Homo sapiens: one gene and its partners. The protein of the gene in region 1 purifies or fractionates together with the protein of each later gene. This does not show direct contact. Each region holds a gene or a part of one and is shown in the gene's direction. Other genes may lie near its edges.

Region 1 (3,440 bases):
TTAAAACTGTGTATTCTAGAGTGTTTATCAATAGTAAGCCCAAATCCAACAAAAGTTACTGATCCTGTTTTCGTGTTTAGATAATGACACAGTGCAAATCTATTCAGTCATTCACATAAATGCTCATCTAAACATTGTGGGAAAGTAAATAACAAAAAATAATGTTCTGGGCTAAAAAATAAGTCTTTACACTTGGATAAGAAAAGATTTTGTGAGATATATGCTGTGGAGGTGATGATCAGTGCAAGAGTGGAAAGTTTAAGAGGTGAATGACCACTGGTGTATTTGGCTGATGGTATGTCGAACCTTAGTATAGCCCGCCCTTAATTAAACCTTCCACTTTAAGATTAAACTTAATGTGGTTTTAAGACTTTGACATGTGTATCAGTTAGTGTTCATTGTTTCTGAAACATAACAGAGAAAAACTCTGAATAATACGACCAAGGAAAAGAAGAATTTATTTGAAGGATATGAGATAGCTCACTGAATCAAACAAAAACTGTGTACTACATTGACATGTGACATTCATCCCTGAAAGGCCTGAGCCAAATTTTTTTTAAAAAAAGACCAAAAGGATATATTAATATGTGACATGTTTATTTTTAAATTTTAGCCTTTATTAAAAAATTAACGTAATAAAAAAGAAACCTATGTATACGTGTGCACGCGTTTTTTTTTTCTTTTCTTTTTTTTTTTTTTCTGGAGACAGAGTCTGGCTCTGTCACCCAGGCTGGAGTGCAGTGTTGCGATCTCGGCTCACTGCAAGCTCCGCCTCCTGGGATCAAGCAATTCTCCTGCCTCAGCCTCCCGAGTAGCTGGGACTACAGGTACACGCCGCCACGCCGGGCTAATTTTTTGTATTTTTAGTAGAAATGGGGTTTCACCGTGTTGTCAATGCTGGTCTCGAACTCCTGAGCTCAGGCAATCCGCCCGCCTCGGCCTCCCAAAGTGCTGGGATTACAGGCGTGAGCTACCGCACCCGGCCTGCATATATTTTTTAAACATTTATTTTAGCGTTACCAAATTGTCTTGAAGCATTCATTTAAAAACACAAAAACTCACTGCAGCTGTCTGAACACTTTTCTACTTCACCAAAGAGTGCCGAACAAGTTAAAATGAATCTGTTTTTAAACACTTCTCCTAAACCATGAGCATTAACTTGATTTCCTCTGTCATAGGGATATGGGAGACAATATAACATCCATCAGAGAGTTCCTCCTACTGGGATTTCCCGTTGGCCCAAGGATTCAGATGCTCCTCTTTGGGCTCTTCTCCCTGTTCTACGTCTTCACCCTGCTGGGGAACGGGACCATACTGGGGCTCATCTCACTGGACTCCAGACTGCACGCCCCCATGTACTTCTTCCTCTCACACCTGGCGGTCGTCGACATCGCCTACGCCTGCAACACGGTGCCCCGGATGCTGGTGAACCTCCTGCATCCAGCCAAGCCCATCTCCTTTGCGGGCCGCATGATGCAGACCTTTCTGTTTTCCACTTTTGCTGTCACAGAATGTCTCCTCCTGGTGGTGATGTCCTATGATCTGTACGTGGCCATCTGCCACCCCCTCCGATATTTGGCCATCATGACCTGGAGAGTCTGCATCACCCTCGCGGTGACTTCCTGGACCACTGGAGTCCTTTTATCCTTGATTCATCTTGTGTTACTTCTACCTTTACCCTTCTGTAGGCCCCAGAAAATTTATCACTTTTTTTGTGAAATCTTGGCTGTTCTCAAACTTGCCTGTGCAGATACCCACATCAATGAGAACATGGTCTTGGCCGGAGCAATTTCTGGGCTGGTGGGACCCTTGTCCACAATTGTAGTTTCATATATGTGCATCCTCTGTGCTATCCTTCAGATCCAATCAAGGGAAGTTCAGAGGAAAGCCTTCCGCACCTGCTTCTCCCACCTCTGTGTGATTGGACTCGTTTATGGCACAGCCATTATCATGTATGTTGGACCCAGATATGGGAACCCCAAGGAGCAGAAGAAATATCTCCTGCTGTTTCACAGCCTCTTTAATCCCATGCTCAATCCCCTTATCTGTAGTCTTAGGAACTCAGAAGTGAAGAATACTTTGAAGAGAGTGCTGGGAGTAGAAAGGGCTTTATGAAAAGGATTATGGCATTGTGACTGACAGTGACCTAGGAAGTTACATCATTGAGCGGTTCTTAACCCATCTCTGCACTGGTGGGACCTCTGCCCTCAATGGACATGAGAATTATCTGAGACATTTATTTAAAATGGAGCTATCTCCTGCCCTACCTTTAAATGACTGATTTCAGCAGATGTGGGATGAAATTCTAGAAATTGATCTCTTCAAGTTGTGCTGCAGCCACTCCACACCAGGACAATACCCCTTACAATATCCTCATTAGCTTTTGATCCAGTCCCATACCTCCCATAATGTTTTCCTCAAAACACTGGTCCCTTCAGAGGACTTTAAAAATAAGTTCTATAGTCAAATAAGTTTGAGACTTACTTCACATCAGATGCCTCTGTCTAGGGATCACAATTCATATTAGCATAGTGAATGCTGTAAATATTTCTCTAGGAAAGAATAATTCTATACCAGCTTTAAGCCAGTGTTTTCTAAACTTATGTGAGCACATAAAATTTCCTTTGTAATACTTAGTAACAGTTTCCTGGAACAGGAGATCTTGATATTAATTGACTCATTGTGAATACTTCCTACAGCCCCCTTCTAGGGCAGAATGATTTCTTTTTTCCTTGCAAAGTGAGCCTCTAAAGAGATGTAGTTCTGAGCATTATGCCTCGATCAGTCTGTAAAAATCCGGGTTCTGTTTGGATACAGACCGTGAGGGACCCTGTCTCTACTGTTCAATGGTAGATCATCTAAAGAAAATAAATGCAATCCTGTCCTTCATCATGGATCGGCATTCCTGCTATAGAAGCTTCAGGAGATGACCTCATTCAACCTCACAATCTTCTAAATTTGAGATTTTTAAGAAATATGATTCAGTATACATCTTCCTGTGTTTGCCGCTGAATGAAATCAATCTAATTTTTCTAATTCAGGGTTTTCAAGATAAACCCAGATTTCTCAAGAAAGAAAAATCTAGAAAGATTTCAAAATCCACCACCTACACACTTAAAAGTTGTAGCAGCTTCTTATGCCATGGGAAACATGTCATTTTGAGATGATGTTTTTTCTAGGTTTAAGTTTGGTCTTAAACATTTATATTTAATTTCTCATTGTCTTAGTTCAAAGAATTTACTTTTATATTTTAAAATAACTTTTTACACAATAACTCAGTGTCATATCATGTTAGATATAAAACTATGTCCTAAAACTATTTTATCCTTTTTTTTTTTTTTTTTTTTTGAGACAGTCTTGCTCTATAGCCCAGGCTGGAGTGCAGTGGTGCAATCTCGGCTCACCGCAACCTCTGCCTCCTGGGTTGAAACAATTCTCCT
Region 2 (3,500 bases), on another chromosome or scaffold:
AAAGAGCTGTCCCTCCCTGCTCCCTTTATTACTTTATTCAATGATTTATTTACATCATGGACTCATGGATATCCATTTTATTCCATGGGTGAAAAATCTGATGTTATGATTGTCCCAGATTTGGTCTCTCAGAATTCCTTCAGATTGCGTTCTGTGTTCTTACAACAAGCCTCCATCATTTGTGAGCACTTCCTCACTTGATGACATCACAAATGATTCCAGGCTCCTCTTGTGTATTTCCTGTTCCATCCTGGGAAGCACCTATTTCCCACAATAAGTTCCAGTTTCTTTTCTTTCTTTTTTTTTTTTTTTGAGATGGAATTTTGCTCTTGTCACCCAGGCTGGAGTACAGTGGCGTGATCTCAGCTCACAGCAACCTCCGCCTCCTGGGTTCAAGCGATTCTCCTGCCTCAGCCTCCCAAGTAGCTGGGACTACAGGCGTGCACCACCAAGCCCAGCTGATTTTTGTATTTTTAGTAGAGACGGGGTTTCACCATGCCGGTCAGGCTGGTCTCGAACTCCTGACCTCATGATCTGCCTGCCTCAGCCTCCCAAAGTGCTGGGATTACAGGCATGAGCCACTGTGCCCAGCCCTCCAGTTCCTTTTTATTGGAGTATTTAGAAACTAAGATCTGGGCACTAGGTGTGCTCATTGCCACTGGGATGTCATTGCTTCTAGTTCCTCTCAACAAACACAGCGAGGCAATACATGCATGTACACGAAGCTGCATATTCACACATCTATGTTTGAATCTGTATAAAAATTAATTACCTGGTTGGCCACAGTGGCTCAGCACTTTGGGAGGCTGAGGTGGGTGGATCACTTGAGGTCAGGAGTTCAAGACCAGCCTGGCCAACATAGTGAAACCCCATCTCTACCAAAACTACAAAAAATTAGCCAGGCGTGGTGGTGTGTGCCTGTAATCCCAGCTACTCAGGAGGCTGGGGCAGGAGAATCACTTGAACCTGGGAGGCGGAGGTTGCAGTGAACCAAGATCACACCACTGTCCCTCCAGCCTGGGTAACAGAGCAAGACAACAACTAAAAAAATAAAAAAATAAAAAAATTGAATTACCATGAGATCATACTGATATCCCTGATTTCAGCCCAGCACCATGGGTTTATTTTAGCCTTATCTTTCCTTATTTGTAACTTCTTTCTCTAACACTCAGAAACTTCACTCTGTCTACGATATATTTATTTGTTTAATCCTAGTGTATACATAAAGCATGCGGTGGCTCACACCTGTAATCTCAGCACTTTGGGAGGCAGAGGCAGGTGGATCACCTGAGGTCAGGAGTTCAAGACCAGCTTGGCCAACATGGTAAAACCCGGTCTCTACTAAAAATACAAAAAATTAGCCATGTGTGTTGGCAGATGCCTGTAATCCCAGCTACTTTGGAGGCTGAGGCAGAAGAATCGCTTCAACCCGGGAGGCAGAGGTTGCAGTGAGCCGAAATTGTGCTATTGCACTCCAGCCTTGGCAACAAGTGCGAAACTCTGTATATATATATATATATATATATAGCAGTTGCAGAATCATTTACAGGTGTGCCTGTGGGAAGCACACGATGCCAAGGTGACAGCCTTTATGCACAGTCCTTTTTGTCTTTTGTCTTGTAATAATACCCAGTTAGGACACTGTTTCTTGCGGTTATTATTCTTCCTCACCCCCTTCCATGTGGTTATGTTATGCTTTTTTTTAATCTGGTTAGGTCCACTTATTAGTGTTTCTATTCCATATTGGGTTCCCCCCACACCCTGATAGTTTTAATTATTTATTTTGTGGGTGTGTGAGGGAAATGTGAAACATGACTATAGTTCCAGGAGTCAAAATTATACGAAAAGCCTGACTCAGACCAGTGTCTCTGTTTCTTCATCCCTACTACTCTTTCCCATTCCTCTTTTTTTTTTTTTTTTTTTTTTTTGAGATGGAGTCTCGCTCTGTCACCCAGGCTGGAGTGCTGTGGTGTGATCTCGGCTCACTGCAACCTTCGCCTCCCAGATTCAAGCGATTCTCCTGTCTCAGCCTCCTGAGTAGCTGGGACTACAGGTGTGTGCCACTACACCCAGCTAATTTTTGTAGTTTTGGTAGAGATGGGGTTTCACTATGTTGGCCAGGTTGGTCTTGAACTTCTGACCTCAGGTGATCCACCTGCCTTGGCCTCCCAAAGTGCTGGGATTACAGGCGTGAGCCACCGCGCCTGGCCCCCGTTTCTTTCTTTTCTTTCTTTTTTTCTTTTTCTTTCTTTCTTTCTTTCCTTCTTCCCTCACTCCTTTCTTTCTTTCTCTTTCTTTCTTTCTCTCCTTCCTTCCTTCCTTCTTTCTTTGTTTCTTTCTTTCTCTCCCTCTCTCTCTCTTTCTCTCTCTCTCTCTTTCTTTCTTTCTCTTTCTTTTTTTCGAGACGGGGTCTTGCTCTGTCACCCAGGCTGGAGTGCAGTGAGTGGCACAATCTCAGCTCACTGCAACCTCCGCCTCCTGGGTTCAAGTGATTCTCCTGCCTCAGCCTCCTGAGTAGCTGGATTACAGGCACGCGCCACCCTGCCCAGCTAATTTTTATAGTTTTAGTAGAGACCGGGTTTTGCCATATGGGCCAGGCTGGTCTCGAACTCCTGACCTCAAGTGACCCACCTTCCTGAGCCTCCCAAAGTGCTGGGATTGCAGGCATGAGCCATCGCGCCCAGCTAATTTTTGCATTTTTAGTAGAGATGGGGTTTCACCATGTTGGCCAGGCTGGTCTCAAACTCCTGGCCTCAAAGTGATCTACCCACCTTGGCCTCCCAAAGTGCTGGGATTACAGGCTGAGCCACCATGTCTGGCCTCCTCTTTTCTTCTACCTCATTTTCCACTCATCCCCTGTAAGTAATTCATCTCTTTAGTACCTGGTGTACCCTTTCTTTATTTCTTTTGTACAAATGAACAGAGACACCTGCATATTTTCTATACCCCCTTACATTAAGGGCAGCTAACTATACTCTTATGCACTTTGCTTTTTTTGGTTTAACAATATGTCCTGGAAACATTTCATAGCAGTTCTTGGAACTTGTCCTCATTCTTTTTTACACCATTGTGTGGATGTTATTGAGTCACTCTCCTAAATATGGGCATTTAGGTTGTTTCCCGTATTTTGCAATTACAAAGAGTACTGCCATAAATAACCCTGAGCACATGCATTTTTGTATGGCTGGAGGAAGAACTCTTAACATTACACTACACCACACGGTATTTTTAAAACCTTGACTTGGGTGCTAACGTTTAAGAATTTGAAGCTATCACTTCAAAATCTGGATTTTCGTATCTATCTGTATATGCTCCTGGGATATAAAAACCACTGTGTAAAGATATGTTGTAGGCTGGGCGTGGTGGCTCACCCAAAGTGCTGATCCCAGCACTTTGGGAGGCCCAGGTGGGTGGATCATGAGGTCAGGAGTTCGAGGCTAGCCTGGCCAACACGGTGAAACCCTGTCTCTACTAAAAATACAAAAATTAGCCGGGCATGG
Region 3 (3,500 bases), on another chromosome or scaffold:
AAAACAGAAGAAAATACCAAGTGTGGCAAGGATGTTGAGAAAATGGGGCCCTTGTGCACTGTTGGTGAGCATGTAGAATGGTACAGCTGCTATGGAAAACAGTTTGGCAGTTCCTCAAAAAATTAAAGATAGAATTACCATATTAACTCAGCAGTTCCACTTCCAGGAATATGCCCAAAAGAACTAAATACTAGGTGGGGGCACTCTGACAGATATTTGTACACCAATGTTCATAGCCACATTATTTGCAATGACCAAAAGCTGAAACTATCCAAATATCTGCCGTTCATGAATGAATGGATAAACAAATTATGCTATATTCATACAATGGAATATTATTCAGCTGTAAAAAGGAAGGAAATTCGTCCGGGTGCAGTGGCTCATGCCTGTAATCCCAGCACTCTGGGAGGCCGAGGCGGGCGGATCACCTGAGGTCAGGAGTTCAAGACCAGCCTGGCCAAAATGGCCAAACCCCGTCTCTACTAAAAATACAAAAATTAGCCGGGCCTGGTGGTGCGCGCCTGTAGTCCCAGCTGCTTGGGAAGCTGAGGCATGAGAATGGCTGGAACCCAGGAGGCGGAGGTTGCAGTGAGTGGAGATTGCGCCACTGCACTCCAGCCTGGGCGACAGAGCCAGACTGTCTCAAACAAACAAACAAAAGGCCAGGCACAGTGGCTTACGCCTGTAATCCCAGCACTTTGGGAGGCTGAGGCAGGCAGATCACGAGGTGAAGAGATTGAGATCATCCTGACCAACATGGTGAAACCCTGTCTCTACTAAAAATACAAAAATTAGCTGGGCATGCTGGCGTGCGCCTGTAGTCACAGCTATTCGGGAAGCTGAGGCAGGAGAATCACTTGAACCCGGGAGGTGGAGGTTGCAGTGAGCTGAGATCGCGCCACTGCACTCCAGCCTGGAAACACAGCAAGACTCCGTCTCAAACAAACAAAAAACACCACACACAGGAATAGCTAAAATAGGGTGCAGCCACTTCCTCTAGGGCTGAAGCCAAACTCCCAAGAAAGAAAGAAATTGGGAAGAAGGACTTCCCTGCCCAACCGGCTCCCCACACAAGATTAGAGTTTCGCTGCAGAGGTATGGTCATGACCCACTGGGTGACTGAGAAGTTCACTGAAGTGCAACAGGCCACTGAAATTTGCTAGGGGGAGGGGTAAACGTCACTGCGTGTCTAGTGCAGGGCTGGCCCCTGTCCATCACAAGATCCCGCTAAGAGGAGCTCGTGAGAATCAGGAAGAGCCCCATCCTCATTCAGTGTTCCTCCAGCGCCCTCTGCTGACAAGGTTTAACACTGAGCTAGCTGGCAGAGGAGAAATGTTTACAGGGTCCAGCTCCAATATCACAAAAACGGCAGAGAGGCATGAAGTTGGAGCCACCAGCCTGTAAACTGATAACTGGTACAAGGTGGTTGTTAGAATGAAATCCAGTGAATGGATTGGATGTGGTGGCTTACGCCTGTAATCCCAGCACTTTGGGAGGCCAAGGCAGGAGGATCGCTAGAGGCCAGGAGCTCCAGACCAGCCTGGGCAACACAGTGAGACCCCATCTCTACAAAAATTTTAAAAATTAGGTGGGCGCAGGCTGGGCATGGTGGCTCATGCCTATAATCCCAGCACTTTGGGAGGCCAAGGCAGGTGGATCACCTGAGGTCAGGAGTTTGAGACCAACCTGGCCAACATGGCAAAACCCCATCTCTACTAAAAATACAAAAACTAGCCAGGCGTGGTGGCACACTTCTAGTCCCAGCTACTTGGGAGGCTGAGGCAGGAGAATTGCTTGAATCCAGGAGGCAGAGGTTTCAGTGAGCCGAGATAGAGCCACTGCACTCCAGCCTGGGCAACAGAGTGAGACTCCTTCTCAAAAAAAAAAAAAAAAAAAAAAAAGCTGGGTACATGTGGTCTAGCTACTCCAGAGGCTGAGGTGGGAGGATCACTTGAGCCTGGGAGTTGGAGGCTGAAGCTGAAGTAAGCTGTGACTGCAACAGTGCACACCAGCCCAGGTCACAGAGCGGAATCCTGTCTCAAAAAGAATTAAATGCAATGAATACTAACAGAAAGTAATTTTGAACGTAATTGTTTCTCTTCTGAACAGCCTGTGGTCTCCTGAAATTCAAAACTGTGAATTGGGTCCTTGATGAGGTCCCTTTCCACTAGGTAACATTCTGTGGCTCCCCACAGAAATAAAGAGGTGAACCTCAGCCGGGCGCAGTGGCTTACTCCTGTAATCCCAGCACTTTGGGAGGCTGAGGCAGGTGGATCACTGGAGGTCAAGAGTTCGAGACCAGCCTGGCTAACATGGTGAAATCCCATCTCTACTAAAAATACCAAAAATTAGCCAGGCGTGGTGGTGCATGCCTGTAACCCCAGCTACTAGGGAGGCTGAGGCAGGAGAATCACTTGAAACCGGGAGGCGGAGGTTGCAGTGAGCCAAGATCGCGCCATTGCACTCCAGCTTGGGCAACAAGAGCAAAACTCCGTCTCAAAAAGAAAAAAAGTGGGGGTAGGGGGGAGGGATAGCATTAGGAGATATACCTAATGTTAAATGATGAGTTAATGGGTGCAGCACACCAACATGGCACATGTATACATATGTAACTAACCTGCACGTTGTGCACATGTACCCTAAAACTTAAAGTATAATAAAAAAAGGGGTGACCCTCAAAAGTGGGCAGTGAAAAGTGAAAAGAGCAGAGATTTTTATGTCCAGACACCTGGGTTCAATTCCAGCTTTCTCCATGTATTAAAGGAGTGCCTGCTGGGCATGATGCCTCTGCTCCCAGCACCTTGGGAGGCTGAGGCAGGAGGATTGCTTGAGCCCAGGAGTTCAAGACCAGCCTGGGCAACATAGTGGGACCGTATGTCTTCTAAAAATAAAAATAAGAAATTAGCCAGGTGTGGTTGTGTGCACCTGTGGTCTCAGCTACTCGGGAGGCTGAGGCAGGAGGATCTCTTAAGCCCGGGATTTCAAGGCTGCAGTGAGCTGTGATCACACCACTGCACTCCAGCCTGGGTGACAGAGCAAGATTCTGTCCCCAAAAAAATAAATAAGTAAAGCAATTCTGGCTGTACTAATAGATCAGCCTCAGAATTTCAGCGGCTGAAGCCAAGTTTGTTTCTTTTTCCTATAAACTGTAGTTGGTGCAGGAAGGGTGGAAGGAAGTTGGTGGGGGGATATCCATGCATTCCCAGACATTTGGTTCCTTCCATCTTATGGCTCTGCCATCCCCGGGAGTCCCAGATTCTCCCCTGGAGTCTCTGTATCCAGAAGCAGAGAGGGAGTGGAGAGTCACGTGGCGTGCGTTTATGGGCCAGGCCTGGAAATAGCCGCACATCACATCGCCGCCACCTATACTTCCTTGGCCAGACCCAGTCTCTTGGCCCCACACATAGCAGCAGGGGAGAAGAGAAAAGGTCATCACGCCATATTCCCAGCAGAAAAATGAAATGGGGTTGGGTGGACAGCTCACCAGTCTCTGCCCTGCA
Region 4 (3,249 bases), on another chromosome or scaffold:
TACAGGAGCACACCACCATGCCCGGCTAATATTTGTATTTGTATTTTTTTTTTTTTGAGATGGGAGTTTCCCTCTTGTCTCCTAGGCTGGAGTGCAATGGCACGATGTCGGCTCACTGCAGCCTCCGCCTCCCAGGTTCAAGCGATTCTCTTGCCTCAGGCTCCTGAGTAGCTGGGATTCCAGGTGTCCACCACCACGCCCAGCTAATTTTTAAAATATTGTTAGTAGAGACAGGGTTTCGCCATGTTGACCAGGTTGGTCTTAAACTCCTGACCTCAGGTGATCCGCCTGCCTTGGCTTCCCAAAATGCTGGGATTACAGGCATGAGCCACCACACCTGGTCTAATTTTTGTATTTTTAGTAGAGATGGGGTTTCACCATCTTGGCCAGGCTGGTCTCGAACTCCTGACCTCAGGTGATCCAGCCAGATGCTGTGGCTCATGCTGCCTCCTGGGATTACAGACGTGAGCCACCATGCCCGGCCAGATGCGGGTTTAAAAGTAGATGCTCCTGCTTACGCTGCGGGCTGTGAAGACCCCAGCATGTGATGCCTTCTCAGCCAGTCCTGACAGGTAGAATGAGCCCTGGGACCTTAGCCTCCTCTGTCTTGGACCTCAGCTCCGATTGTCTAAGAAAGGGATGGGTTTACTGGGTAGTTCTTCCAACTCTGAATGTCTCCTCCCATTTTCTGCCCCAGGGGACCCGGCTACCTGTAAGCAGATCACCAGTGCGGATGCTGTGAGGAACATGGAATGGGCCACAGCTACTTGTGTCCTAGGGTTTGGGGTGTTTGGTGAGTTCTGGAATGAGAGAGGTCTCACTGAGGACAGTAGTTCTGAGAGACATCCCCGCTGGTGGTTTCCAGAGTCTTACTGCTTACCTCCAGTGTGGGAAGCTCACTGCTTTACTGCATGTGGGCTGTATTTGTGTAAGAGGAAAGGGTAGGGTGAGATGACTCATTAGAGCTGTAATAAAATGAAACCAAATGGGCGTGGTAACTGGCCAGGAGAGATCCACACTGCCGGTGCCCTAGCCACCCATTCATTCAGGCACGAATGAAGCAAACACATATTCCCTGAGCAGTTCTGTGCCTGCCGTGGGCTTGGCAGTGACCATGACTGACGGCCCTGCTCTCCTGTGGCTCTCAGTCCAGTGGGGGAGGCAGACTTGTCCCCAGACAGTGATGACCCAGAGTGAGCAGGTCTGAGACAGGGAAACCCAGGGTGGGGCATCTGGCCTACTCTTGGAGGGAATCAGGGAGGGCTTCCTGGAGGAAGAGACATCTGAGCTAGGACCTGGAGGATGAGGAGTTACTTTCCAGGGCAGTGAAGAAGGAAAGCAGTCTCTTGGCAAAGGGAATAGTACATACAAAAGCCCACGCGTGACACAGAACTTGGCATTTGGAGAAATGCAGGGAGGCAGGGTGGCCAAATCATTACAGAGTTTAACAGGAGCACTGATGAGGGATGAGGCTGGAGCAGTGCATGGGGCCTGCTGAGCCTTAGAACCACAGGCTTTCTTCTAAGATCACCAGGGAGCCATGGAAGGGTTTTAAGCAGAGCAGGGGCAGGCTCGGATTCACATTTTAAGGTAATTCTGACTCATATCCTCGGATAGATACAGGCTAGGTCGGAACAAATTAAGGTGGCTGGAGTGGCAATCTGCTCCTCTTGGCGGTCCCTGGCTCCAGCTGACATCTTACCACTTCCCTTCATCTTGCCCACAGGGATCTGGTCTGAGGGGGCGGACGGCACTGATATCAACGCTGTGGCCCGCTCTCATGATGGGAAGTTGCTGGCTTCAGCTGATGACTTTGGCAAAGTTCACCTGTTTAGCTACCCCTGCTGTCAGCCTCGAGTGAGTCCCTTGGGGAGATGGGGATGGACGGGGGTAGCAAGCAGGGGTGGGGACAAAATTCAGGCAGCTCTGGTCCAACCCCACCCCTTCTCTGAGCCTCGGTTTCCCCATCTGTACAAGGAGGACAGTAGTCTTGATCCCAAGGGCCTTTCTTAACCCCAAGGTGGATGAATTTCAGTGTGTCATGGTGAAGACCTGGTTCTCTGAAGTTCTGAGCAACTGCAATTCTGAGCTCTTTGGTTCTTTTATCCTTGTTAACTCAGTAAATATTTATTGAGCACCTACTATGTACCTAGGCACAGGATATACAACCAGATCTTATGAGTTTTTAAGGGAGGCCAAGGCCAGTTGCAGTGGCTCACACCTGTAATCGCAACACTTTGCAAAGCTGAGGCAGGAGGATTGCTTGAGGCCAGGAGTTCAAGACCAGCCTGGGCAACAAAGTGAGACCCCATCTCTACAAAATACACACAAAATTAGCTGGGCATGGTTGTGCATGCCTGTAGTTCCAGCTACAAGGAAGTCTGAGGTGGGAGGATTGCTTGAGCCCAGGAGGTTGAGGCTGCAGTGAGCCATGATTGCACCACTGTACTCTAGCCTGGGCGACAGAGCAAGACTTTGTCTCAAAACAAAGACAAAAACAAAAAAAAAAGCTGGACGTTAATTTTACCATTCTCTGGTTCTAACAGAAGAGGGATTGTTTCAGCATTTTCCTAGGAAATTTTCATGCATAAAAGCAGAAAGACTAGTACAGTGACTCCTCCTGTACCTGTTACCCATGTTCAACTATTACCAGATTTGGTATATTTATTTCATTTGTTTCTTCTTTCTCCTTTCTCTTCTTTTTTTATTTTTTATTTTTGAGACAGGGTCTCACTCTGTTGCCCACGCTGGAGTGCAGTGGCATGGCACAATCTCGGCTCACTGCAGCCTTGACCTCCTGGACTCAAGCGGTCCGCCCACCTCAGCCTTCTGAGTAGCTGGGACTACAGGCGTGCACCACCACACCTGGCCAATTTTTGTATTTTTCATAGAGATAGGTTCTCTGTTGCCCAGGCTGGTCTTGATCTCCTGGGCTTGAGCAATCCTCTCCACCTTAGTTTCCCAAAGTGCTGGGATTACAAGGCATGAGCCACAGTACCTGTCCTGGTCTGTAGTTTTAAGAAACTGCATATGTGGCCGGGTGCGGTGGCTCAAGCCTGTAATCCCAGCATTTTGGGAGACCAAGGTGATGGATCACCTGAGGTCAGGAGTTTGAGACCAGCCTGACCAACATGGTGAAACCCTGACTCTACTAAAAATACAAAAGTTAGCAAGGCGTAGTGGCAGGCGCCTGTAATCCCAGCTACACAGGAGGCTGAGGCAGGAGAATTGCTTGAACCCAAGAAGTAG
Region 5 (4,079 bases), on another chromosome or scaffold:
TCCTCTTATTTACTGAAAGAATGGTGGGAGACAGAATATGAATGTGTGTATGTGATCATTGATTTCAGACCCCTTTTCCTAATCTCTCTGTGCATGGCTGCCCACCCCACCCCATTTTGGCTAGTGCTGACGGTGAACAAAGTGGTTATTATCATCCCTATTTATGGCTGGGGAAACTGAAGCCTATATACTTCCTACTTCACTTTCTCCACACACCAGCAAACCTCCTTTCCCCCAGCCAACATACCACACACACACCACACCACACACACATCACATACACACACCACACACACATCATATACACACATATACCACACACACCACGTATACATATACCAAATACACACACACCACATACACACCATATATGCACACACACCCCATACATACACACACCCATGCACATACATAGCGGCAGGAAGAGGGCTCCCGGGGAATTTGCCTTTCGACACTGCATTTCCCAGTAAGCCCGCCGTTTTTCCTTTCTGTTTCATATCACAGACAGAAAAGTTTTCCAAAGATTCTTTTATTTACATTTACATACGATTCTGAAAAAGCGTCTCCAAGCTACCACTTCTTGTAGTTGCCATTGTCTCATTCCACCAAAAAACATCTCAGACCGCCCGCGGCCACCCCAAATACGCCTGTCCACTGAAGCCTCACTAAAAGGAGGAAGCGCTGATGTCAGGGTTACTTAAATTCCCAGGCTCCGGATCCCTAGAAGAGGTATTTCCCTTTACGCCCGCGAATTTGTCATAGAAGGCAGGGCACTAGAGCCAGCCCCAGCCAAGTCCAGGGGGAGGGGCGAAGGTCAGTAGCGGCCTTCCTAAGGCTTCCTTCAACCCCTCCTTGCCTGCCAGTCAAGTACCGTATTTTCGCAGTACTGGTTAAAGTTTCACTTTGACCCGCCTCCATCACTCACCTGATTAGATGTTTATGAGTCAAAAGGCGGGGTCATGGGGTGTCGAGATTTTATTGGTGGATACATACGCCTGTCGGCAGTGTACCGCCCCCTGTCTTCAGGAGCTTGCTCTTTAATGGCTCCTTACCTCGTCCATCTTCGAGGTTTCTCCCTCGCTATTGGCTTGTGGCCCCGCCTGTCGCGTCCCTTGCTCGTACTTGTTGGTGACAGCGCCCAAAGAGACTCGCCTTTCTCCAGAGGATTGGTGGATGAGTGCACATATAGCCCACCCTCGAAGGTAGGCGGGTAATCGAGCTATTGGCTGGAGCCCCGCCCCAGGGCGAGGAGGAGAAGGAGGGGCAGGAGGGTTTGGTTGAGCTGCAGCTGTTTGTCTGTTCGACACAGGCTTGGGGCCGACGGGGGAGACGGAGCCCCAGGTACCGAGCTGATGGAGCCCAAAGGGCAGGGGCGGAAGCGCCCGGGAGATGAGAGCAGCCTGGCCTGAGAGCGGAGGCGGGTCTGGTCCTAAGCGAGGGGTTAGAGTGGCCCACCGGAGAGGGGAGAAGGGGGCCGGGCCCCGGCAGGCCTAATGGGGGTCGCTGAGGAGGGGACTGGGCGGCCTGGGACCCCGAAGTTGGTGAGTCGGGAAGGCGGCTGGGCTGTGGCGGCGGCCAGGCCGAGGGCCGGGGGCTGGAGGCCTGGAGCTTGAGTGAGGGCAGGGGCAGGCCTCATTAAGCAGCGCTGAAGAGGGAGGAGCTGGGGAAAGGAACAGGGCAGCGGGTGAGGTAAGCCCATTTGCCGGGAGGTGAGGAGGGTCAGACCTGTCGCCCGAGCCCCGGGGGTGACTGGGGCTGGGTCCCTGCAGAGAGGTTCATTGGAAGGGCCTGAGAAGGGTTCTTAGTTGGGTAAGAAGCGTTCTTTTCAGGGAAAGTGCCTATTGTAAAAAGAACTGAGGGTGCTATGGTGTTGAGCTGAGAGAGATTTGGGTTCAGTGAGGGAGAACTGGGGAAAATGAAGAAGGCTGTATTAATCTAGAAGACTAAGGTAGTTGAAGTAATGGAAGCAGGGCCTGGTATCAGTTATGGGAACTTCTGGGAATGCTGAAGGGTGGGCTGGGGGCTCTGGGTCTTGGGAGTACACACTCTTTTGTTCCCTTTAGTGTTTAGATGTGGTAATTTGAAGCTTTTTAAAACTCCCAGGGTAGGGATGAAGATCAAAGTAATTTTTTTTTTTCCATGACTGTTGGCTGCTCCAAACTCAGCCCCTACACTTTCTGTTGGCCTCATAGCTGGTCTATACTGCAGTCTGTTTCTTAACTTACTGTTTCATGTCCTATGAAAGAGCTAAGAAGTTGGATTGGGGGCATGTTTTGTCCACTTCTTTCCCACTTAATAATGTGGTCTATAGCAAATACCATGTCTCCTAGAACTGAGAATCTATTTCATATCTATTTCATTATCTACATGGGAAAGGGGCTTAGAGATCCTCAGCCATCAGGAGATCTTCTGATCATAGTTGGTGAAACTTTTGTGGGACTTAGACTTGACTTGGGTATTTCCCAGGCAGGTAATGGAGTTAACAGGTCCGAAACTATGCGGTGATATCACTGAGGAAGAGATTTGGGGAAGAGTGAGAAATTCCATTTCAAAAGCTTGGCATCACCCCTTGTTCTTTGTCTACTTCAAAAGCCCAGATTTCTGTGCTGTTAGAAAGTTGGGTCAAACTATGAAGTATCTGGGGAAGATGGTGAGTAGAGAAAAAGATACAGAGGTGCAGTAGCCCACGCCTGTAATCCCAGCACTTTGGGAGGCTGAGACAGGAGGATCACTTGAGCCCGGGAGTTCGAGGGTGCAGTGAGCCATGATCTTCCCACTGCACTCCAGCCTGGGCAACAGAATGAGACCCTGTCTCCAAAAAAAAAAAAGACAAAGATTGCCAAAGCAGAGGAGTGGAGTACCCTCCTCCCCACATATTTTTAATGGTCTGCTAGCCTTCTTAGTCCCTCATAGATTGGAGCCTATTGGATTTTCCCTTACTGTACTTCCTCCTTTTCTGCGTCTCTACCAATATATTTTATCACTACATTTCTTTTTTTTTTTTTTTTTTTTTTGAGACGGAGTCTCACTGCAACCTCCACCTCCCAGGTTCAAGAGATTCTCCTGCCTCAGCCTCCCAAGTAGCTGGGACTACAGGCGTGCGCCACCACGCCCAGCTAATTTTTGTATTTTTAGTAGAGACAGGGTTTTACCATGTTGGCCAGGATGGTCTCAATCTCTTGACCTCATGATCCGCCCACCTCGGCCTCCCAAAGTGCTGGGATTACAGGCGTGAGCCACCACACCCGGCCATCACTACATTTCTTAATTACAAAAGTTAATATGTACATATTTTAAAATATGGAAGGTGTACAGCAGTTTAAGAAGTATAAATCCTCCCACACATACCTTATTCATATTTCATTTAGGAAGGTCAAGGATCAGAGACAGCAAATCAGACTAATCTTGCTTTGCTTTGGGGGATGTGTCACAAAAGGCAATTGTGTTTTCATGTTCTCATCAAACTCTAGTCTTATTCTTTCTACAGTTTTCCCTTCTGGGATGATACTCTGTTATTTATTGTGTTCCTTTCACAGTTCATTTTGTCTTCTACCAAGTCCGACAAGCAGAGGGCTGTACTGTGTGTTATTCACCTTGAGTACACACAAACACACACACCCCAAGTTGTGTGCTGGGTGTCCTAGGAAGTGCCCAAAGAGATGGAACAAAACTTTATGGGGAGAAAGGATCATTTTGGTTGGGATAATTGTTGGCATCTCTGCTAAAGAAAGGAATTTCAGACCCTTATCTCAAATTCATGGTCTCTGGATGTTCATGGTCTCTGCATGTTCACATTACTTGACTATCCCTTTCTTATCCATGATGATGATGGTTCTCCTAAGAGGCCCCTGTATTTGTCTTTCTTTTCTTTTCTTCTATTTTTAGAGACAGGGTCTTGCTTTGTCACTTAGGCTGGAGTACAGTGTGTGTCTTTCTGTAGGGATCTGAGAAGCTCCAAGCTTATCTGGATTTGAAATCGGTTTTCCTCTAAATCTCAGAGTCAGAGTACAGCTGGGGCATTTCATACTACCACCTTATTAATTGAATTTGTCCTTACTAGCTTTAAAAGCCCTCTGTTG
Region 6 (2,173 bases), on another chromosome or scaffold:
GTGAAAAAAAGCTTTCACTCTGGCTGGGCAGGCATTCTAAATCATCTCTTTACAAGCAATACTTTCTGAATAATGTATCTAATTAAATGTATCAAAAAGAGTTGTCTGGCATTTATTACTGCCAGATCTGTAATTCAATGAGGATTTGAATCTCTTTCAATGTTTCTATAGCCAAAAACGATTTTTCACCTTTTAAAAATGATTTCGGCTGGGCGTGGTGGCCCACGGCTGTGATCCCAGCACTTTGGGAGGCCAAGGTGGGCTGATCAAGAGGTCAGGAGATCAAGACCATCCTGGCTAACATGGTGAAACCCCGTCTCTACCAAAAATTAGCTGGGCGTGGTGGTGGGCACCTGTAGTCCCAGCTAATTAGGAGGCTGAGGCAGGAGAATGGTGTGAACCCGGGAGGTAGAGCTTGCAGTGAGCTGAGATTGCGCCACTGCACTCCATCCTGGGTGACAGCGCGAGACTCTGTCTCAGAAAAAAAAAAAAGGTTTCAGTATCTCAAGCGCTGCTTGCATGTCATGATATTCCATATCTATCCTGCCCACCCTAAGTATCATAGGAGCCTTTCCTCATCTTACAATGGCTTACTTTTATTGGAGCTTAACAAAGTAGTAGCTACTTAGAGCAAAAAGGAAGGGTGAACGTAAAGTGGGACTCACCCCCCAAACTAAACTGCTTACCTTCCTATGAGCATCATTTCTGGCAATGGGTAGCAATGGAGGCAATGGGTTGGTGGGCTCTGCAGTAAATCCACCTGGCCTCAAATCCAACTTTAACACTGGTTTATTAGCTGTGTGACATTGGGCAAATTTCCTAGTTTTTCCAAGTTGGTTTCTTCACTTATAAAGTAGGATGATAATACTAATCGCAGCTAACATCCATTGAACCTTAGCTTAGAATGTGCCAGGGTCCTGCGCCCTTTTCCGGTGGTATTATCTCATTTAATACTCAGAACAATCCCCAAGCTGTCAATTCTGCTGTTGTTTCCTACTTCATGATGTTGTGAGAGTGGATTGGGACAAGACTTGTCTGTCACCTCGCCTGACACCAGGCTTACTATGGGTTGTCATTACGAGTTTATTCTGCTGCCCTGCTCACTGTCTGCCCTCCTTCCGAGCAAAGCCCTCATATCGATTTGAGGGAAGGTCAAAGTGTGGGCACCCTCCTTATGTTCTTGCAGGGAGGAGGCTAAGAGAGCACAAATATGATAGAGTCCACCAGGGAAGAATACCTTCTCAACCAGAGTTGTTGTTTTGATGGAACTCAGTTTCTCTGTTTTTGTTTTTTGTTCTTTCCTGCAGATCCTCTCATTTGGAAGACTATCCCTTCAATGCAGAATATTGAGGTTGAATCTCCTGGTGAGATTATACAGGAGATTCTCTTTCTTCGCTGAAGTGTGACTACCTCCACTCATGTCCCATTTTAGCCAAGCTTATTTAAGATCACAGTGAACTTAGTCCTGTTATAGACGAGAATCGAGGTGCTGTTTTAGACATTTATTTCTGTATGTTCAACTAGGATCAGAATATCACAGAAAAGCATGGCTTGAATAAGGAAATGACAATTTTTTCCACTTATCTGATCAGAACAAATGTTTATTAAGCATCAGAAACTCTGCCAACACTGAGGATGTAAAGATCAATAAAAAAAATAATAATCATAACCAACATGTATTGAGACTGTACTATGTGCCAACACAATTTGAAGTGTTTTCCTGTGGGTGAAGTCATTGAATCCTCAGAATAATCCCTTTGGGGTAGGTATTCTTAACATCTTATTATTCACATTTGCTGGAAGAGGAAATGGAGGTAGAGGGGAGGGAGGAGGAACTTGCTCAAGGCCACCCAGGTAGTAAGTGACTGAACCAAGTTTCAAAGGGAGGCAGGCTCTGGGGTAGCTCACAGCGATCGATGGTCATCCTCTTTCTCCTGAGCCTTTTCCTGCCACCTTTCCTTCTTGCCTGTCTCCACTCATTCCCTGTCTTGCTCTCACAGCTTGCCTTCAACACCATTGTGCCAAAGAGTCAATGGCAGAGCCTGCAAACTCCACAAAGATGCTAGTGTTCATTGAGAGAGGTGCGGCATTTTCTTGGGAAGTAGAGGTGTGGCATTTCCTTGGGAAGTAGGGTGGAAAAACAATAAAGATACTTACTATTGCCATTAATCTG
Region 7 (3,500 bases), on another chromosome or scaffold:
CAAAGGTACTCATGTCACCTTCCCAGCCCCTTGCCATCCCTGCCATCACACCACATTCCAAGCTGAACCCAGCCATGCTGCAGCCTGAGGAAAAGGTGGGAATCTGCCCTCTGAGTCATGGGTGTCACCTTTCATGTCCCTGATGGCTGGCCTTGCTTGGCTACAAGTGTCTCACCCACTAATTTGTGGCTTTTTCCCATCCTCATCTTACCACCCCTTCCCCCCACCCCTACCTCTTTTTCTTGCTTTCCCCAATTTTCCTTTGATGTCTAATCTTGGCCTATGTTCTTCTTTTGAGACAAGGTCTTGCCCTGTAGCCTAGGCTGTGCAGTGATGTCATCATGGCTCACTGCAGCCTTGACCCTTCTGGGCTCAATCAGTCCTCCCACCTCAGCCTCCTAAGTAGCTGGGACTACAGGTGTGCCACCACCATGCCCAGCTAAATTTTGTATTTTTTGTAGAGATGGGGTTTCGCTGTGTTGTCCAGGCTGGTCTCGAACTTCTGGGCTCAAGCCATCTCCTGCCTCAGCCTCTGAAAGTGCTGGGATTACAAGCATGAGCCACCGCCCTGGCCGTGGCCTATGTTCTTAATCCCTCTCCTACCTTCCTTCCTTCTTGCATCTGTTTCCCTTTTCTCTTTCTTTTTCTCCCTTTCCTGCTCTTTTCCTTCCTCATATCCCACCTCTCATATCATTTTTCCTTACCTCCAATGAGGGTGCCAGGTCCTAACCATCTTGTGTTATAATACGGGTTTCCCTAGCTCTTCTTCACTGCCTGGCCCCAACTCTAATAATGGTTGCCTCCTGCCCAGCAGGTTGGTGCTTGGTGATGAAGCCACTGCACACCTCACAACTTAGAGATGTTTTTAGAGTGGCCGTGATGGTACTTGTGCCTTACATCCTGGGAATTAGCAGCCATCAAGCTACTCCAAGCAGGGGCTAGCAGGGCTGGCAGGGTATAGCGGGTCAGGCATTTGGCAGGTCCTGGGGATATCTACACTAGGAAAACTCAGGAGGATTCAGAGAGCTCCTCACCCCACCCCAGATTTCCAGGTGGAGGCTGTGGATGACATCACATCTGAGACCAGTGGCATCTTGCAGGACCTGCTGTTGGCCCTGGCCAAGGTGAGGAGGACTGACCTGCAAGGAAGGGAGTCACGTTCACCAGGCAAGGAGACACGCTGGAGCAGGGAGCATTGCTGTCCTGTAATGGACAAGAGAGGGCTTTAGGGGAGACCAGCCTTCGCTTGTTGGTCTGAAGATAAAAAGGTGCCCTTCAAAGAGCCCTCTAAGAACAGTTTCTCCTCCTAGGGGGGCCGTGACAGCTACTCTGGAATCATTGACTATAATCTGGCAGAACAAGATGTCCAGGTGAGCAGGGGGTTTAGGAGTGTGCACAGCCGCCATGCACATAAGATGCCTTCCTCCACCATATCTTAGAGCCGGTGACCTACGTGCCCATTTTTCCCGCAAACCCATCCCTGCCTTGGAGAGGGAGTTCTCAGTTATGTGGTAGGGGCAGGAGGTGTCAGGTAGCGTCATAGCTGAAGCCTTTTCACTCATCTAGCCTCTGACTCCTGAGCTCATCAACTGACATATTCTCCTCTCATGAGCGTTTGGGGGCAGAAAGCCTCCTCAGACCTTTTGGGGATTATTTAATCCTCGGGTACCAGGATTTTTCCAAATCAGTGAATAGAGCTGTGAGGCTGTAAGGGCAGAGCCCTCTCTTAGCCCTATTTCTTTCTTAAAAAATAAAAAACATAAGATAAAAAAACATAAATAAAAACAACTAGTAGGCCAGGCATGGTGGCTTATACCTGTAATCCCAGCACTTTGGGAGGCTGAAACAAGAGGATCACTTGAGCCCAGGAGTCCAAGACCAGCCTAGGCAACATAGTGAGACTCTATCTCCACAAAATATTTTTAAAAATTAGCTGCACCTGTAGTTCCAGCTAGCTAGGAGGCTGAGGTGGGAGGATCGCTTGAGCCTGGGAAGTTGAGGCTGAGGTAAGCCCTGGTCATGCCACTGCACTCCAGCCTGGGTGACAGAGAGAGACCCCATCTCTCTCGCTCTCTCTCTCTCTCTCTCTCACACACACACACACACACACACGCACACACACAAACCTAGTTTACGGGTTAAAATAAACTTTCTGGCTGGTCGTGGTGGCTCACACCTATAATCCCAACAATTTGGGAGGCCGAGACAGGTGGATCACTTGAGGTCAGGAGTTCGAAACCAGCCTAGCCAACATGGTGAAACCCCGTCTCTACTAAAAATACAAAAATTAGCCAGGCATGATGGTGAGTGCCTGTAATCCCAGCTACTCAGGAGGCTGAGCCTGGAGAATCACTTGAACCTGGGAGGCAGAGGTTGTGGTGAGCTGGGATCACACCATTGCACTCCAGCCTGGGTGACAGAATGAGAGTCCTTCTCAAAAAAAAAAAAAAAAATCCTTTTCCACCCTCAATCCCATTTCCATCATGATGATGATAGATTCTGGAACGTCATACCCATGGCTCCCTAGGCCCCAACCAATGATCCTGATTGACTCCTCCCTGACTCATTCCTCCCTCCTAGGCACTGCAGCGGGCAGAAGGACCTAGCAGAGAGGAAACATGGGTCCCAGTCTTCACCCAGCGAAATCCTGAACACCTCATCCGAGGTACACACAAGCCTTCTTGTCCCCCTAGCTTGCTCTAATGATCAGTTTGGGCTGAGGAAGGTGGGGAGGGCCCATCCTTTCCAGAGATAATTAATCCCCCATCCATCTTTCTAACTGCCTCCTACACACACAAGTGTTTGATCAGTACCAGCGGAGCACTGGGCAAGAGCTGGAGGAGGCTGTCCAGAACCGTTTCCATGGAGATGCTCAGGTGGCTCTGCTCGGCCTAGGTAGGGGCCTGCTCAGGATTTGTGAAGTAAGTCTCTCTTGGGATGGGAGATTGTGGTCCTAGTTGTGAACCTCCATCCTTCCATCTTTGTTTCCAGCTTCGGTGATCAAGAACACACCGCTGTACTTTGCTGACAAACTTCATCAAGCCCTCCAGGTGAGAGGGGCACTCCTTTCCCTCCCCAGAACAGAAACTGGGGAGGAGAGAGGAAGTCTCAGCTTGCTGCTTATGTAACCATCCTATATACACCGTCTAAACCTCAAGCCGCTCTCCTTCCCAGGGCTTACACACCAGGGCTTACACAGGGGTGGAGGAATGAGCTGTGGTGAGAACTAACTTAGTTGGCTCCCAGGGGCCCTGAAACTAACATTTTGGCCTTGTTAATGTCTAGGTGGCCAAATAGAGATATGAATCTGCTCTGTAAGACAGTGCCTTGTGCAGGCTTAGTTGTTGCCAGAGTGATGGTGATAACACTAGCAAGAATAATGACAAGGGCTGGCATTTTGCAGGTGCTGATTGTGTGCCACAGCCTATCCTGAGCAGGGCACACATATTTCAATTAATCCTCACAACCATATCCATCCGTATCTTATAGATGAAAAAACT

The links.
Region 2: the proteins of OR2A4 (region 1) and ACP7 purify together in Homo sapiens (affinity purification with mass spectrometry; one large-scale study listed by BioGRID and IntAct). This does not show direct contact.
Region 3: the proteins of OR2A4 (region 1) and SULT2B1 purify together in Homo sapiens (affinity purification with mass spectrometry; one large-scale study listed by BioGRID and IntAct). This does not show direct contact.
Region 4: the proteins of OR2A4 (region 1) and EML2 purify together in Homo sapiens (affinity purification with mass spectrometry; one large-scale study listed by BioGRID and IntAct). This does not show direct contact.
Region 5: the proteins of OR2A4 (region 1) and RAB5B purify together in Homo sapiens (affinity purification with mass spectrometry; one large-scale study listed by BioGRID and IntAct). This does not show direct contact.
Region 6: the proteins of OR2A4 (region 1) and AKR1B10 purify together in Homo sapiens (affinity purification with mass spectrometry; one large-scale study listed by BioGRID and IntAct). This does not show direct contact.
Region 7: the proteins of OR2A4 (region 1) and ANXA9 purify together in Homo sapiens (affinity purification with mass spectrometry; one large-scale study listed by BioGRID and IntAct). This does not show direct contact.

What each region holds. Positions count from the first base shown.
Region 1 is NC_000006.12:131,699,144-131,702,583, reverse strand, and holds OR2A4 (olfactory receptor 2A4), read left to right. Parts: upstream 1-1,182; coding exon 1,183-2,115; 3' UTR 2,116-2,940; downstream 2,941-3,440. UniProt on the Homo sapiens protein: Odorant receptor.
Region 2 is NC_000019.10:39,090,868-39,094,367, forward strand, and holds part of ACP7 (acid phosphatase type 7 isoform 1 precursor), read left to right. Parts: intron 1-3,500.
Region 3 is NC_000019.10:48,583,172-48,586,671, forward strand, and holds part of SULT2B1 (sulfotransferase 2B1), read left to right. Parts: intron 1-3,500. UniProt on the Homo sapiens protein: Sulfotransferase that utilizes 3'-phospho-5'-adenylyl sulfate (PAPS) as sulfonate donor to catalyze the sulfate conjugation. Responsible for the sulfation of cholesterol.
Region 4 is NC_000019.10:45,612,149-45,615,397, reverse strand, and holds part of EML2 (echinoderm microtubule-associated protein-like 2), read left to right. Parts: intron 1-697; coding exon 698-793; intron 794-1,726; coding exon 1,727-1,857; intron 1,858-3,249. UniProt on the Homo sapiens protein: Tubulin binding protein that inhibits microtubule nucleation and growth, resulting in shorter microtubules.
Region 5 is NC_000012.12:55,972,799-55,976,877, forward strand, and holds the start of RAB5B (ras-related protein Rab-5B), read left to right. Parts: upstream 1-1,279; 5' UTR 1,280-1,341; exon of another isoform or gene 1,342-1,493; coding exon of another isoform or gene 1,494-1,541; intron 1,542-4,079. UniProt on the Homo sapiens protein: The small GTPases Rab are key regulators of intracellular membrane trafficking, from the formation of transport vesicles to their fusion with membranes.
Region 6 is NC_000007.14:134,539,740-134,541,912, forward strand, and holds the end of AKR1B10 (aldo-keto reductase family 1 member B10), read left to right. Parts: intron 1-1,307; coding exon 1,308-1,350; 3' UTR 1,351-1,673; downstream 1,674-2,173. UniProt on the Homo sapiens protein: Catalyzes the NADPH-dependent reduction of a wide variety of carbonyl-containing compounds to their corresponding alcohols. Displays strong enzymatic activity toward all-trans-retinal, 9-cis-retinal, and 13-cis-retinal.
Region 7 is NC_000001.11:150,985,292-150,988,791, forward strand, and holds part of ANXA9 (annexin A9), read left to right. Parts: intron 1-1,044; coding exon 1,045-1,124; intron 1,125-1,310; coding exon 1,311-1,370; intron 1,371-2,580; coding exon 2,581-2,665; intron 2,666-2,799; coding exon 2,800-2,895; intron 2,896-2,991; coding exon 2,992-3,050; intron 3,051-3,500. UniProt on the Homo sapiens protein: Low affinity receptor for acetylcholine known to be targeted by disease-causing pemphigus vulgaris antibodies in keratinocytes.